Linked DNA regions of Homo sapiens: region 1 is linked to region 2. A link means that fine-mapping ties the variant in region 2 to the expression of a gene that starts in the linked region. Tissue or cell type: B cells. Region 2 holds a variant in brackets; the other region holds the start of a gene. All regions are shown on one strand. Distances are from middle to middle.

Evidence for each region. PIP is the estimated chance that this variant, and not a neighbour inherited with it, causes the effect.
Region 1: it holds the start of KCNC4, and the variant in region 2 is fine-mapped to the expression of KCNC4 in B cells (Schmiedel 2018, PIP 0.95).

The regions. Positions count from the first base shown.
Region 1 is chr1:110,206,714-110,214,799 of GRCh38, forward strand. It overlaps KCNC4 (potassium voltage-gated channel subfamily C member 4), which reads left to right and starts at 3,601. Exons shown (of 4, transcript NM_001039574.3): 1 at 3,601-5,464. The coding sequence starts at 4,787. It overlaps KCNC4-DT (KCNC4 divergent transcript), which reads right to left and starts at 3,274. Exons shown (of 2, transcript NR_046546.1): 1 at 2,898-3,274; 2 at 1,737-2,491. RefSeq lists silencers at 1,199-1,258, 1,269-1,318, 3,281-3,960 and an enhancer at 5,198-6,086.
Region 2 is chr1:110,415,470-110,423,555 of GRCh38, forward strand. LAMTOR5-AS1 (LAMTOR5 and SLC16A4 antisense RNA 1) reads left to right here. Exons shown (of 3, transcript NR_102697.1): 3 at 540-805. Among named protein-coding and RNA genes, the nearest start is that of LAMTOR5-AS1, 12 kb to the left of the region's middle. The variant G/T (reference allele first, on the strand shown) is at 3,554.

The sequences.
Region 1 (8,086 bases), 210 kb before region 2:
CTGATCTCTTCTCTTTAAGAGCTGGGCCTTCAAAGGCCACCTTTGAGCCCCAGATACAACTTCACTGGGATTACCACAGCAACCCAACCCTGCTTTCAGTCCTGAGGCAGAGCCATTCTACTGATCTTCACAAGACCTGAATTACTAGGGCTAGGTTCTCCCCAGAGCCCCTCCCCCACCAACCCCCCTCCCCCCAAAGAAGGCTCTCACATTTGATTTGGAGCCTGCAAGTCTCTGCAGGCTGCTTGGGGTTGGGGGAGGCAGGATGAAGTGAGCTGAGACGCAGACAGGAGGCTGCCAGCCTGCTCTTGCCTTCCCTTCTCTTGTTCCCCCATGAGCGGGGAGGCCCTATCACCCTCTAATGAGTCTGATAAAGCAATTCAATTTTCCAGGCTGGGAGAGAGTGAGGCATGCTGGGAAAGGATGCTGGCTCCTTGGCCTGGACCTGAAGGAGGGTCAGTCCCTGGCAGGAGCTAGAATACCAAAAAGGGAAAGTGTGAGCACCAATGGATAGAACCTTGCCTTGGCCTGGAGCCCCTCACCACAAACAGGTTTCAAAGAAGGAAGATGGAGAGGAGATTGGATGGCTCCAGTCATCCTAAAGAGGCTGAGCCCATACAAAGCTCCCAGTGGGGAAAGGGGAAGGGTAAACGGCTTTGATTTCAGGCTTTCAGCTTCCTACGGACAGGGTCAGCGTCGGCACTCAGAGGGTGAGGACCTTATTATGCGGGTGGAGGGGGGGCCTGGAAAGGGTGCAGGTGCTTGACAGCCTCCATCGGTGCCCCTTTAGAATCTCCCATGGCCCTCTCTTCCTATTCTTTCACCACACCCTCACCCCTGATGAGGGAAACCCGCTGTGGCTGACACCTTCTGTGAACTGGCTTTCAGACAGGTGCTCTTCCCTGACAGCCTGAAGAAGCCAGGGCACTAAGGAGAGGACAAAAGAGAAAAGGTGAAAATGAGGGAAAGAAGCTTGGGGAACTAGGAATTTCCAATAGTGGCTGCTTTGTGGTCTTGCTTAAGCCTGTCAGGTATCAAGGTCTTGGAGGAATGAAGAAGGGAGGGAGTAGGCAGAGTCCCAATGGCAGAGTTAGGCTAGAAGATGTACCTGAGGTCCTGGAATCAACAGGAAGCCCAGAATCAGCTGCCACCCCATCTGCCCACATCACAGCCCCCAGAGCTCAGGGCGAGGTCTGGAGCCAGGATGTTCTAGCACCACCAGAGGGCAGCACCCTCACATCCATGGTAGGCTGTGTCACAGTAGCCTGGGCAGGGGGCTCTCCTATCCTTCCCCGGCTCTGTGTTTTGAGGGAACACCAAGACCTCACACAAAGAAATGATGGGGACAAGTCCCATAGTGCTAACTGCAGCATATCGACTCCCTCAGAGAGGTACACGTAACAGGTGAGCCCAGAGTTCTAGAATAAACCTTCAGCAAGGGTGAGGCATTCTCTGGAGGCCTCAGGACTGAGGCTGAGCTCCCCTCTCCCGAGCTGGTCAGTGCACAGAGCTGGGAGTCCTGGCCCCATGCACCTTTACCCAGCTGCCTCTCTCAGGCTGGGCCCTCTGTTTTTGTCAGCTCTTCCTAGGTTCCTATGCCTGTGTCCCAACTTTCTGATCTTCCTCCCTTCCCTCTTGGCCTCCTTTTTCCCTGGCAGCTTTCTCCCTTTACCCATCTCCCCAGGTGCTCATCACTATCCACAAGCACCGCAGAGTGGAAGCACCAGTTGGGCAGATTTACTAGGATGAGTGGCTGTTTTATTCACTGATGTATTTCCAGTACCCGGAACTGCTTCTGGCATATCGTAGGTATTCAATAAGTGTTCATTGAGTTAATAAGTCAATCAGGGGTGGGATACTATGGGTTTTGTCCCCTTGCCTACTACACTCCCTTTGTTACAATTACTGAGCTCAGTCATCCTGATGAACGGAAAGCAGGGGAGAGACCCCAAGGGACTTTGCCAGGACACGGACCAGATAGGACTTGAAAGTTATTCATTACATTAATATTCTGTGGTTCTTTCTTCCTCACTCCAGTTTCTGGCCTGTCCCGGGTCTTCTCTTCCCAGTCACACTTGGGATATTTCTTTTCACTGCAGCAAACTCAAAGACAGCTAAACTCTGAAATACAAACATCAGTTTCGAGGAGCAGGGACTGGGCACAAAGGGGGTGCCAGTAAATGTGTGTTTCTGATTAACTCACCTCCCCTGCGTGTCAGTACAGATCATCAAAGATCATTGTCATTTTGGTTTTCTGGCCTCATTAATAATGAGACTTTTGCTTGTAAAAATCCCTTGCATTGGCACTGAGCTTTTAACCTTTCCTGAGACACACATAGGCCCTTGTCTTGTTTTTCTCAGTTGAGCTAGGTACTGCCTGATCTGGAACTGGGAAGGTGCACAGGTGTCCAGGGCAGGTGTGTCATTCACCTTTCATTTCTGCCTCAAGATCTCTTTACATCATCCAGACAGGCATGGAGGCTGCCTGAAGCTGTAAAAAAGAAAAAAAAACCCAATGGGGATTAATATGAAGATGTAAAATAGGTTCTGGACTTAACAAAAACAAATGAATCTGGAAATTGCTCTTGGGATAGGGCCAGTAAAGTCCTGTTGGTGCCTACGTTTTGGGTATGGCAGCTTCTCAATCACTTAGCAAACAGGTTCTCAGAGGCAGGCACTGTGGGAGCTATCAAGATGAAAAAGCACAATGCCGCCTGCAGGAGCTCAGGGTTAGGGAGGGGAGAGGAGACATATACACAGGCAAAGTCAAATTGTAATGGGTAGAATAAGAGTAGAAACAGGAAGGGGTCATGAGGCAGGACACGGGCATTTCCTATGTGGACCCCAGAGCAATGACGAGCAAAGGCTTTAACTAATGACTTTTCAGGGCCACCCACCCACTCCACATCCATAAAACATTTCGCGATGAACACAGCCAGAGCTACGGTTTCCTTCCATCCGGCACAAGAAGCGCTTCTCTGCCCAAGGCCACCCCGTCCTCCATTCCATCGCGGGGACTTTGGTGGCTGGGACAGAGGCGGAGAGCATCAAGACCATGGGTGTCTTGGGCTACGTTGGGCCTCCGAGGCGCAGGATGCGGGGCGGGGTGGTCAGAAGGCCCCAACACGGTCCCTGGGAAAGGAGAGGGCAGCCTGATCCTCGCGACAGCGTCTCTACCCTCTTTCTTCCTTGGCCTTCCGTCAGCCGCAGTGAAACGGCAACAGTGCGACCAGCTTGGCGGGGAGGGGGCGAGGGACGAAGCAAGAAGAGCCGGGCGGAGGTTAGAGGTCAGGGGTCGAGAGCGCTTCGGTGTCAGCGGGCTGCGGTGGGAGGAGCTGCGGGCCCGGGGGAGGCGCGGAGCAGGGCTGAGGGGGGCGGGAGGGGTTGCCGGCGGAAGCGCGCAGGGGCGGCGCGCTGGGCTGGGCACTGGCGGCGAGGAGGTGACGCGCTTGGTTGGGGCTCGGCTCCGGGGAGGAAGACTGCGCTCGGTCGCCAGGGCCTGCAGTGAGTCGGATCGGCCCCGCGCTGCGCCGCGCCCCGCCCACCCCGCCCCGCGAAGGGCGCGTCTGGGCGAGGCGGGGCCCCGGAGGAAAAGGCGCCACTGGGGCGTGGCGGCCGCTGCCAGCGCCGGAGGGAGACCATGAGCCCCTAGGGCCCCAGCCCACCGGCGCCGAGGCGCCCCCTCCCCTATGCCACCTCGCGCCCGCCCCCTGCCGCGCGCGAGCCAAGGCCGGCGCCCCGCCCGGAGATGGGCAGACGCGTAGATGGCGTGGCTCCCAGCGCCGCCAGATCGCAGGAACCAGGCGCCGGGGCGTTGCGCTGAGGCTCCCTCTCCGCGCGGCCCGGGAAGCCTGCAGGTGTCCTTGGCCGCTCGGCCGCCGCCCCCGGTACACCTTCGCCAGTGCCCAGAGCCCGGCTCCCCAGAGCGGCCCCGCCCCCCAGGCTCGGCGCCGCGCAGGACGCCCCGTCTGAGGCACCCCCGCCCCAGCGCGGCCCCCGCAGCGCTGCGCCCGGTCCGGCGCAGCTCCCAGCCGCGGACGCAGGACCCGAGGCTCGCTCCTGCGGGCGCGCTTGTTTTCCAGCTGCCGCCTCGCCCTGCGCAGCCCCCGCCCGCCCGGCCGCCGCTCTCTGCTCTGCCCCGCCTGCCTTCCTCGCCCGGCGCTGGATTTATGAATGGGGGGAAGAGGCCACATGCCGCCGCCGCCGCCTCGTGTTGACCGCAAGCAGCCCGGGCCCACGGAGCTCCGGCTGCCGTGAGAGTGTCGGCCTGGCCCCGGCAGCCGCTCGGAGGACTTGTTGCTGCTGCGCTGCCGCCGCTGCGGGGAAGCCGGCTATTCCGGGGCTTGGTGCGGTCTTGGAGCCGGAGGGTGGCCCGTGTGAGCGCGAGCGCCCCGGACCTTCGCGGTGCGCGTGGACTGTGCGCTTCCTCGTCTTTGGTCGGGGTGAAGGCGGGGGCGTGTCCCCGGCCCAGAGCGTTTGTGTGTCCCGTCGTAGCGGGGGACCGCGTGTGTGCTTGCTTCTACTTCCCCGGGTCCTCCCTCTCTGCGCCTCCCTCTCTCCGGAGCTTCCTGCCCTAACCCCAACCACCTGTGTACCGGAGAAATCCAACTCCTCCCGCTCCGCGTCCTAGGGGGATAGGCAGGGGCAAGCCCAAGCCGCAGAGGGGGCCGCCACCGCCTCCTGCCTCCTCTTCGTCTCCTCCCCCTCCCCCGTCTGACGCTGCCTCCTCGGGAAGGGTGTTTGGAGGGCAGCGGCCGCCCCAAGCCGGAGCCCCGCAGCGCTTCTTATGATCAGCTCGGTGTGTGTCTCCTCCTACCGCGGGCGCAAGTCGGGGAACAAGCCTCCGTCCAAAACATGTCTGAAGGAGGAGATGGCCAAGGGCGAGGCGTCGGAGAAGATCATCATCAACGTGGGCGGCACGCGACATGAGACCTACCGCAGCACCCTGCGCACCCTACCGGGAACCCGCCTCGCCTGGCTGGCCGACCCCGACGGCGGGGGCCGGCCCGAGACCGATGGCGGCGGTGTGGGTAGCAGCGGCAGCAGCGGCGGCGGGGGCTGCGAGTTCTTCTTCGACAGGCACCCGGGCGTCTTCGCCTACGTGCTCAACTACTACCGCACCGGCAAGCTGCACTGCCCCGCGGACGTGTGCGGGCCGCTCTTCGAAGAGGAGCTCACCTTCTGGGGCATCGACGAGACCGACGTGGAACCCTGCTGCTGGATGACCTACCGGCAGCACCGCGACGCCGAGGAGGCGCTCGACATCTTCGAGAGCCCGGACGGAGGCGGCAGCGGCGCGGGGCCCAGCGACGAGGCCGGCGACGATGAGCGGGAGCTGGCCCTGCAGCGACTGGGCCCCCACGAGGGAGGCGCGGGCCATGGCGCCGGGTCTGGGGGCTGCCGCGGCTGGCAGCCCCGCATGTGGGCGCTCTTCGAGGATCCCTACTCCTCCCGGGCCGCTAGGGTGAGTGGCAGGAGCCCGTGTCTCCCCATCTTGGGTCTGCAAGGGGTCCGTGGTGGGTGGTGGGTAGGGGCCGGGAGGAGCAGGGACCGAGCCTGACTTACCTTACCACCGCAGATTGTTCCCGCCTTCCTCTCAACCCCCCTCCGTGGCTCGCAGGGGAATTACACACTCCCACCCTCTCCCCTGCACGCTCCATCAGGAGATTGCACACACTTGACTTACTACTTGGACCCAGTCCCAGCTGCCTGCTTTGCCGCATCCCCTCCAGTGAGTGGGGTGCCCAGCTCAGCTCCTCCACCCCCTTCTTTGGTCTGCACAGGCTGCCCTATCTTCAGCTGCCCTCCACTCCACACAGGACTACGGTCCTGGAAGAGCTGGAATTTGGTCTTCTGATGGGGGCAGGCAGGGTTGAGAGGAAGGAAACTAGGGTGGGTTTTGTTAGATGCTTCCATGCCGTGCCACCTCATTTACATCCTCCCAGCAGCTCAGTGTGCTCACAACTATGCACTTCAGAGAGGAGGATATAGGCTTCAGCATCTTAAGCTCAGAAGAGGCAAAGCTGAGACCACAATCCGGCCTCCTTTCCAGGTTTAAGAAAGGCATTCTTTCTGCCAGGGAGGATACCATGCCCCTGAGGCTTCCTGCACACCTGGGATGTCCTGGCCTCAGCTGGGGTGAGAGGAGAATTAAACACGAAGGGCCTAGCGTTCTAGGCTCTGCAGGCTCCCACGGCCAGTGGCCAGCCACAGGCTTCCTGGTGATGATACCAGATTTTTGTTGCCGCTTCTTTTCTTTCTGCTGCAGCACAAACTGTCTTTCCAGAAAGCCCTGGTTCAGGTTACTGCTTGAAATGGGTGTATGAGGGAAGGGGGAAGCACAGGTTGATTTAGGCAAGACCTACCGCCTCCTCCCCAAGTAAATCCAGTTTCCCTAACTCCTTTAGGTGAAAGGGGAGAACGGGGGAGGTGCTTCCCCCATTATGCTTCGACAGCTAAAAAAAAAAAAAAAAAAAAAAAAAAATCCCTGAAGGATGGCTTTAGATTCTTTAAAGAAAGAAAACTCTGGGGGCTGGTGTCGGATCTCATGGTCAGCAGCCTAAAGCCTGGCTGGAGTCTGTCTGGGAGACAGGAAAGAGCAATGTAACTTGTTGGGTCTGGGGACTGCTGCTTGCTGTGGAACCTGGTTGGTTCCTCCAGCATCCCAAATTGTCATGTTAATGAGTCTCAGAGCACCCTCCCTTTCCCAGCACCCCTGTGCTGGACTCCTTCCTAGTCATAGAAGAAGGCAGGGTAGGGAATTGGGGAACAGGCCTGCAGGGAAAAGCCAGGCTGGCATAAATGCCAGGCCAGGGCAGATGCATCTTCTGCCTGGAAGAGAAGGGAGGAGCAGAGGTCTCAGGGGCCATGGCATACCGGGCTGGGGCTGCAGGCAGCCACGAGAAGGCAGGGATCTTTCTCAGGACTGACAACAAAGCTAGAGGCAACTGTCTGGGTTTCTTTCCTTGCAGCCCTGAGACTGGCTAAGAAGGTGAGGGCATAGTGATGCCCCTGGCCTGGGTCTGCTGTGAGTTCTACAGACTTCTCATGTAGGTCACTAACCTTGCTAGTGTTAGCACTTGGCTGTCTGCATTAGGGGAGAGAGGGCAGGCACACATCATTCAGACTCTTTCAAAGTTGGGGGTCGGGGAGGAGAGATAGAGATAGAGATGGGGAAAGGGGACAAACCAGGGAAGCAGGGATGAGATGAGGTGGTTAGGGGAGCTAGGCCCTATTTCTGAGCATTCTGGGACTTCTAGGGGCTTTTCACCTGCTCTTCTTCCCCTCTGGAATTCCAGGTGGCACCCCACATATCATTGAGTTTATTTTCTTCCTAACTCACTGCTGAATGGCCAAGCCAGGGGGCCTCTTTGAGTAAGCTCAGAGCCTGGCCTGCCCCTGGAAGTCTTCCCAGGAACCCAGGGTGCTTTGCCCCTTTGACATGGAATCACATCAGCCCAGGCATTCCAGTTGAGGTCTTGAAGTTTATGATGGAGCAAGGTTAATTCTTCCATTTAAACATTGAGAAAACCAGGATTCAGAGACATTAAGTTTCTTGCCAAAGACATTTAACTAATAGCAGAGGCAGGAAACCACCCCTAGTTTCCAGCCTTCTGGTTGTTCATCCTGATGTGAATATCTGGATGGAGCTCTGGCCAACACATGCACTAAAAGAGGACTTGCCTCCTGCTCAGGAGCCCAGGCAAAGGCAACCCTCACCTGCTCCCGGGACACACAAGTGGGAATACATAATTTTTACAAATTAATGAATAACTGCTCATTATTGAGCACCCCAGACAGATACATTGCTGTATATACTTTACATTAATCTCTAATCCTCCCAATAAACTTAAAACCCGGTGATTATCCCCGTTTAATAGATTGAGGCTGTGAGAAGGTAAACAACTTGCCTGAGATCACACAGCCAGATAGTGGCCAGGCTTTGAATCAAAGCCAGAGTCCCTGACTCCCAAGCCCTTGCTCTTGTGATTACAACACCTTCTTTCCACTGAACTAGGCTGTTTTTGAGGCAGAGAGCTTGTTTCTTACTGTAGCCTGAGAAATGTCCTTCTGAGGTTCTGTACCT
Region 2 (8,086 bases):
CTGCTGCTTTATTAATTTTGCTACAGAGGATAAATGAGATGCAGACTTTCATATCCAAGTCTTCATTAGATGCCCAGTTAATGCAGCCATGACAAATGGGAATGAAGCCCTTATGAATAAAAAAAAGATCAACCCAGTATAAAAAAATCATAGACCAGAGAAATGAAAATTTAGAGGAGCTGATAAAATACCCTATCCTTAATTAGACTGTCAGCATACACATCAAATCAGCCTTAATGCCAAGATTTATTGGCCTTGGAATTGGGTAAATGAAATAAGTGCTTACAAATGAATGGAAAAGAAATTACCTGTATTAAAACGTATTTGTGATGCAGGCCTGTGCACTGAGGGTTTTAGTCAAACTCAGGCTTGCAGCTTCTTTTGCTCTGCATCCATTTCCACCCCATGTTCCCCAGTGGGTTTCAGAGACCCTCTTTGTGGGGTAACAATATGTACCATTGTCAACTACCTCTGCTGTTGTCCTGGAAAAATCCTTCTTGGACAGTAAAATATTTTTGTCTTTATTTCACCATCTCCAGATTAGATGGGTGTTACTGATTCTTACCTCAGAGAAGAGAATGTCATGGAGACAAAATGACCTGCTTAGAGTTCTGCACCCCCCAGCATGGAGAGCAGAGCGCAAAGATTTCTTCCGGACTCCCACATTCCCCTTGGAATCCAAGAACTGGTCTACTGTCACAACACTTTAGTACCCTCTTGTAAGCCTGTGGACAAATCCTCTGATGCCTTGATACCTCGGTTTTCCCCCACTATAAATGGGAAGATAAATTCACTAGAAACAGTACTTACCTTGCAGTGTCATTATGAGAATTTCATGAGACAATGCAATATAAAGCTCCTAGCACAGTTCCAGGCACCATTGTAAGCACTGAACAAATGAAAGCTGTTGTCATTAGGATCTCAAGAAATGACAGCTGAGGCAAATGTGGATTAGACTGCATTCAGCATTCTTAGCTGCAAGCAACAGAAGCTGACGCTGGTTTAAAGAATAGGAAAGGAAGTTAATTAAAATGACATTGGGTAGCTTGTGGAACTGGGAGGACTAGAGAGCTCAGTCTAAGTTCTAGTGACAAAGCTTCAAATCATACATGAGGAAAATGCCCCTCTGCAGGAGGAACGTAATCCTGCAATCACTGCTTCCCCTGAAGCCAGATGCCTCTACTGCTGCCCTTCCCAGCAGTGATGGAGCCTGGATCACATACCTGGCTTTAGTTGTAAAGGAGGCTGGAGAGAAAATGCTCTGCTCTATGTAACTGTCTTGAAAGTGGCCCACACATAGCAAAGCCATTCAAAAGCGGGTGAGCAGCATGAAAGCATCCAGAAGGATTCTTGCTTTGCATGAGGGAGAACTCTTGCTCCCAGAGTGTGAGACCAGCAGGGGCATTTTCCTCATGTGTGATTAGAAGCTTTGTCACTAGAAGCTTAGACTGAGTAGGACACCTCTGAGTGTGAATGTCCTACCTGAGTTCTGCCTCATGCAAAGCAAGAATCCCTCTGGAGGGATTGACACCACAGCCTCTTCCACAATGTCTCCAAACAACTTTACTGGGCAGCATTCCACTCCTTGACAAACGGGAGAGGTGCATTCTACCTTCTCTCCTGCATGAGCCTAGACTAATATGGAATTTGGGAGTGTTGATCATTGTACTTTGTGCTCCTAGAGATAAGGGTCATCATAAAGCATCTCAGAGTCTCACTGTAGATCCACAGTTCCATTTCTTTATGGATCCCTTACCCCTACTTTGCCAAATTCTATGCAGATAGCAATAATAATTCAGACAGGGCTTCCTCACTGAAGGAGTTTGTGCTCTATATAGTTAATAAGCTAGAGATAATGAAAAAAAAAAAAACTCAACTTGAACTTTGGGTAAGAGAAACTTTTCAGACCAACGATCATTACCAATAACAGCTTCCACGCATGACCCTGCCCGGAGATTGGGGCCTGCACTACTGTTTCCAGGAAACACATTCTTTTGAATTTTTTTATTTTCTTTGTAGAGATGGGGATCTCACTCTGTTGCCCAGGCTGGTCTCAAACTCCTGGCTTCAAGCAATCCTCCTGCTTCGGCCTCCCAAACTTCTGGGATTACAGATATGAGCCACCACGGCTGGCTGACAGGCACCAAATTCTAGGAGAGGACTTGAATAGAGTAGGCATCTGTCTCTCCCCATTCCTTTCAGGGACAGAGCTCTCCTGGTTGGGAGAAAGGGAGAGGGAGAGGGAGGAGGATGAATAGTGAAGCACCAAACCTCAGAATTAAGGCCTTTTTCTTTTCTTTCTTTCTTTCTTTTTTTTTTTTGAGATGGAGTTTCGCTCTTGTTGCCCAGGCTGGAGTGCAATGGCACAATCTCGGCTCACCGCAACCTCTGCCTCCCAGGTTCAAGCGATTCTCCTGCCTCAGCCTCCCGAGTAGCTGGGATTACAGGCATGCGCCACCACACCCAGTTAACTTTTTTGTATTTTTAGAGACGGGGTTTCTCCATGTTGGTCAAGCTGGTCTCGAACTCCCGACCTCAGGTGCTCTGCCCGACTTAGCCTCCCAAAGTGCTAGGATTACAGGCGTGAGCCACCATGCCCAGCCAGAATCAGGGCCTTTTTAAAACTTCAGTGTCTTGTCTTTACCCTTCATGGTGCCTAGAAAAGCATCTGGCTCATAGGTGTTCAGTGAATGATTGTTTCATTAGTGAAGAAATTCCCTTTGGAAATCTCATAGGAAACTTACCCTCTCCAACCCTTCACCTGTGCATTATTCCAGCTCCCAAGGAGGCAGCAGAAACTGGGGTAATCACAACGGTCAACAGCAGCAAAGGCAGCACTTTCTGATTTACTTGACTGCTATGGATGCCACCTCTCTCCACGCCTCAGTTTAATATCTGTAAGTTTGGTCAGTATCTCATTCAAGAACATTGCATTTACTCTGGTACTTAAAGATGAAAAATCAACATTTACAAAGCAGATCCATTGTCAACCTAAATAACAAACAAAGAGAGTCTCTATAAAAGAAAAGAATATTTATTTGGGAATAGAGCATTGCATAGGAATATGCCTGCCTTAGTAATGCATGTATTCAGGGAGGTAGAGGAAGACAAAGGTTTTTAACAGAAAAAATGTGGAGAATTACATAATTGTTTTGAAATAATTATCCTTGGCTATAAAGATCAATAACAAGGGTGATGCGAGTCCAAGGTTGGACAGGCAGTTGCTGGGCAGATGTCTTTGCAGAAGTCTTTTTTGTGTAAGGTTGTAATGGCTTTTGTAGGAGGTTGTGGCTTTTGCAATCTTTTGTGATAGCTTTTGTTACCAGGCATACAAGCATGAGAATGCTCTCTTCAGGGCCTTCCCTAGCTCTATTTATCAGGGGTTTCTTGTTAGTGATTCCATTTTGATTCTGACAACTTTCATGGACATTATCTCATTTAATCTCACAGTCATTCCATGACTCTATCCCCATTTTGTGAATGAAGTAACTGAGGTCTGGAGAGGTCAACTAACTGGTCAAGGTCATAGAACTTGAAAATTTTCATTGTCTTG[G/T]GTCTCTAATACTGGGGCTGACCATTCTCCCAGGCAATGTTGAGTGAGTTGGCCCAGGTGAGTCGGCTCCTCTGCAATTGTGTCTCCTCAACTAGTTTGAACAACACAGGCCTGTGAGCCAGTCCCATAAAGTGGCTAGGGGTTCCCTTCTCCCCATTTCCCCTCATCAACAGGAGGACTTGTCTGTGTGCCTTCAGACACCACACAGTAAATCAACTGCCACATTCATTCTGGACCATCAGTATTTTGCCCCAGGAGAAAGTCAGAGGCAAGCACACTAATATCTCATTGATATTTTCAATTGCCAAAGGGGAAGTGAGATGAATCTAATCCCATCTGTCAAGGTGGAGAAGAGCTGATTCGAAAGCAGCATAGATTACTTTAAGGAGATGACAGTTTATCACTCTCTGGACAAGGGAATATGAAATGAGGACTAACCTCCTTTATGAGTTGGTAAAAACATTGATCAGCAAAGACAATGTCTGGGGAAATGAACAGCAAGTTCTCTGGCCCTTTTTCCACTTTTCCTTTCCCCGAGACTTTATGTTATATATACACACTCACACAAACAGGACAGAATCCACCTCCTGCCCCTCAAGAAATAGTTAACATTTGTTGAGGATTAATTATTGCCAGGCTCTGTACTCCATGTTTTATATTTACTATCCAGAAGCCTTAATTGTTAAATGAGGTAAGTGTTATTATTAGAACCTTTGTACAGATGTGGAAACTGAGGTGTATAGAGGTTGACTTGCCCAAGGTTACCCAGCTAGTGAAGAATGAAATCAGATGCAGTCCAGCCAACGCTTGGCCTGCCGTCAGTCACACGCAGTACACGTAGATCAGTCAGCCTGGAAAGCCACCTAGACAGCCCTGCTTCACTCCATCCTTGGTCAGCACCTTAGAGAGCCCTGCTGACCCCAAGAGGATGTGCCTTTTACGGGTTGTAGAGGCTGAACCACAGCTGAGGGGCTGGAATGAGTGGGGGCCTCAGACAGGGTGTCTGGAGAGCTGAGGCTCAAGGAAGGGTGGAGGGGGTGCTGAAGCTGAAGGCCGTGGGTCTTGCCAGCAAGTGGGGCTCAGTGAGCCGAGGTGCCTCTCAGTTACTTCCATGTGTGAATTTCCGGTGGAGGACAGTGATGGGCTCTGGGCCCTTGGAAACCGGGACATCCAGCGTGTCCAGCCACAGTGCAGGCTGCCCTGGCTGCTGAGAGTCTCAGAAAATGCCACTGTCATGGGTTAGGAAGGCCTGGGGACCACAACAATGTGACTTCAAAAAACCCAAGAAGGAATGTGCACACCTGAGATGCTCAGAATGCATGTGTCAGTGTTCAGTTCTGACTCCTTGCTTCAGCCAGGGACAGAAGAACCTTCTACAGTAAAGAACCACAAGAGAGGGCTTTGCTGCCAGCCTCAGCCAGGGACACTTGGCGGCCAAAGCAAAGGTCACTCCAGGGCTGCAGATTTCAGCCTCTGCGGCCAGAAACAAGCTTCCCAATTAATAATACTCTGGATCGGACAGAGATGGCTGCTCTGTCTCAGGCGTGTTTGCCGTTGATCCCTGTGATTGATGCTGATAACATTAAGAGTCTGTCAGGGTGATATTTCATGAATGTCTCATGTGATGGGATGATACAGTCGGGAAATGCAATTCCCTAGCTCAGGCAGAATCAGAGATGACCCAAAGTGCTGATGGAAAGGCTGAGGCCCTTTCCAGCCTCTGGCAGGGTAGGGAAAGCGGGTGAGGTGGGGGCTTGGGAGGGGCTGGGCTGACCTAGAGCTGTAACAGGGGTCTCTCATGAAGGGCTGTGAAGAGAAACAGTATGTGAGAGAGGCAAGAAACTTTTCTCTGGGTTTCCTCATGTAGAATGATTCCATCTGTGTAGGCCATGAAGGAGTCCAGGGAAGTTCACCCCAAAATGTTGAAACCACCTTTGCAAAGATTATGACAGTGAGAGAAGCCTGGCATGGCTGACTCTATCTTGCTTCTAGCCTCACAGGCTGGCTGTTCTGTCTCATTCCTGGGCATAGGCCAAGCTAATCTTGGGAGGGATTTATGGTTTAACTTTGAAGCCAGGATCATAATTGTCCCTCCCTAAAACTGACCCCTTTCTTGTTCAGGGACTGAAACTGCCTTTGTAAGACTAATGAAAGGCCACAAAATTAGGATTATGGAAGGGGCCTGAATTCTGATAAGATGTAGGCATAGCTTGCCTTTCTGTCATCGTTTATTGCACTGGCACTCACAAGATTTGTAACTTCCCCAATTGGTCCCATAGATAACATCACTATTGTAGAACCTCAGATTGGTCTTTTGAGATCTTTTTCAGACTTTGGTATTCTGGTGACTGACTCCACCCAGATCCCATGACTCATGACTCAGCTGGTCCTGTGGTTCTTACCCAGTCTGACACAGCACCAGAGGACCGTTTTCCACACTTCTATCTATGATTTCATCCCCAACCAATCAGCACCACCCATTCCCTAGCCCCCTGCCCACCAAATTGATATCCATAAAAACCCTAACCTCTGAGTTCTCAGAGAAACTGATTGGAGTAATAAACTCCTGTCTTCTGTGTGGCTAGCCTTATGTTAATTAAACTCTTTCTTAGGGCAGTACTGCTGTCAGTGAATCAGCTTTATCTGTGCAGTGGGCAAGAAGGACCCACTGGGTGACTACAATATGGCACTTTGGTATGTTGGTTATTTTAAGTTAGAGGCCTTTGATGCTGGAAGAAGCTTTACTCTGATATCTCCTTATCTACCACAAGACTGGATCTGCCAAAGAGAACACAATTGCGTTCCATTCCCTTCCTGAAATCTCATTATCTATGGCAGAAAAGAAGACTGGGGAATGTAATACACAGTATTACACAGTAATGTAACATACTACACAGTATTTACACAAAACATGTAACACAGAATGTACTACACAGTATTTTCACAAAACAATATCTGTCTCTCCAACTCATTCAAATTCTAAAGAGTCATTTACACGTCAATTTGTGTCTTCTACGCCCATTCATTCTCCCTAAGAATCATTTACTACTCCTCAAAAGAATTACCAACATTCTCCATCTCCCACTCCCCTATGAGGAAGGGTATATAAGTTTCTGTCTGGATCTCATTAGATGACTGTGTGATCGTGCTTCTATGATCCCTACCCCACATGTTAAATGAATTTTGTATGCCTTTTTCTTTTATCAATCTGCCTTTTGTTAGGGTATTTTCAGTGGACCTTCAGAAGGCAAAGGGGGAGCTTTCCTTCTTTGACCCTACAGCTATTAGACTTGATTGAGTAAGACACACAATAATGAAAGTAAATAAGAAGAAAAACATTCATCCTGCTGTCTCCAGAGTTTGAAATGTCTGCCTCAAACTTCGATTTCTATCTACCAAAAATTCATGCATTAATCATAAGGCCGATCTCAAAAGTGAATTTTTTTTTTTTTTTGAGAAGGAGTCTCACTCTGTTGCCTAGGCTGGAGTGCAGTGGCACAATCTCAGCTCACTGCAACCTCTGCCTCCTGGGTTCAAGCGATTCTCCTGCCTCAGCCTCCCAAGTAGCTGGGACTACAGGCACGTGCCGCCAAGCCTGGCTAATTTTTATATTTTTAGTACAGACGGGGTTTCACCATATTGGCCAGGCTGGTCTCAAACTCCTGACCTCAAGTGATCCACCCACCTCTGCCTCCCAAAGTGCTGGGATTACAGGCGTGAGCCACCGCGCCTGGACGTGAAAAGTTTTTTGAATTCCCCCATTAGAAATGATCTTCACCCTGACTCCCATAACACTTTGTACATTACTGTAAAAGCATAATATTCAAATATTTACAATATACCTCCTTCAAATATAAAATGGACACATGCCGAAGACTTAGCAACTCATGAAGGAGGGAACCAATAATGTAGTTAAGCTAATTCAAAGAGCATTTTGAGGAAATGAATACTTATGGTCATTTAAAAGGAAATGTTAAAATTTCTAGGTTAAAAATAAAACTTGCCATTGCATATATGGTCAAATGATTTTTGACAAGGGTGCCAAGACCATTCCATGGGGAAAACACAGTCTTTTCAACAAATCGTGTTGGGAAAACTAGATATCCATGTTCAAAAGAATGAACCCTTACCTTACCTTCCACCATATACAAAAATTAACTCAAAATGGATCAAAGACTTAAGCATAAGAGCTAAAATTATAAAATTCTTAGAAGAAAACATAGGGAAAAAGGTCCATGGTATTATATTTGACAATGACTTTTTTTTTTTTTTTTGAGGCAAGATTTCACTCTGTCACCCTGGCTGGAGTTCAATGCAGTGGCACAATCTCAGCTCACTGCAACCTCCACCTTTCAGGCTCAAGCAATCCCCCTACCTCAGCCCCTAAGTAGCTGAGACTACAGGCATGCACCACCAAGCACAGCTAATTTTTGTATTTTTGTACAGAGTTTCGCCATGTTGCCCAGGCTGGTCTCGAACTCCTGAGCTCAAGCTATTCACCTGCCTCAGCCTCCCAAAGTGTTGGGATTACAG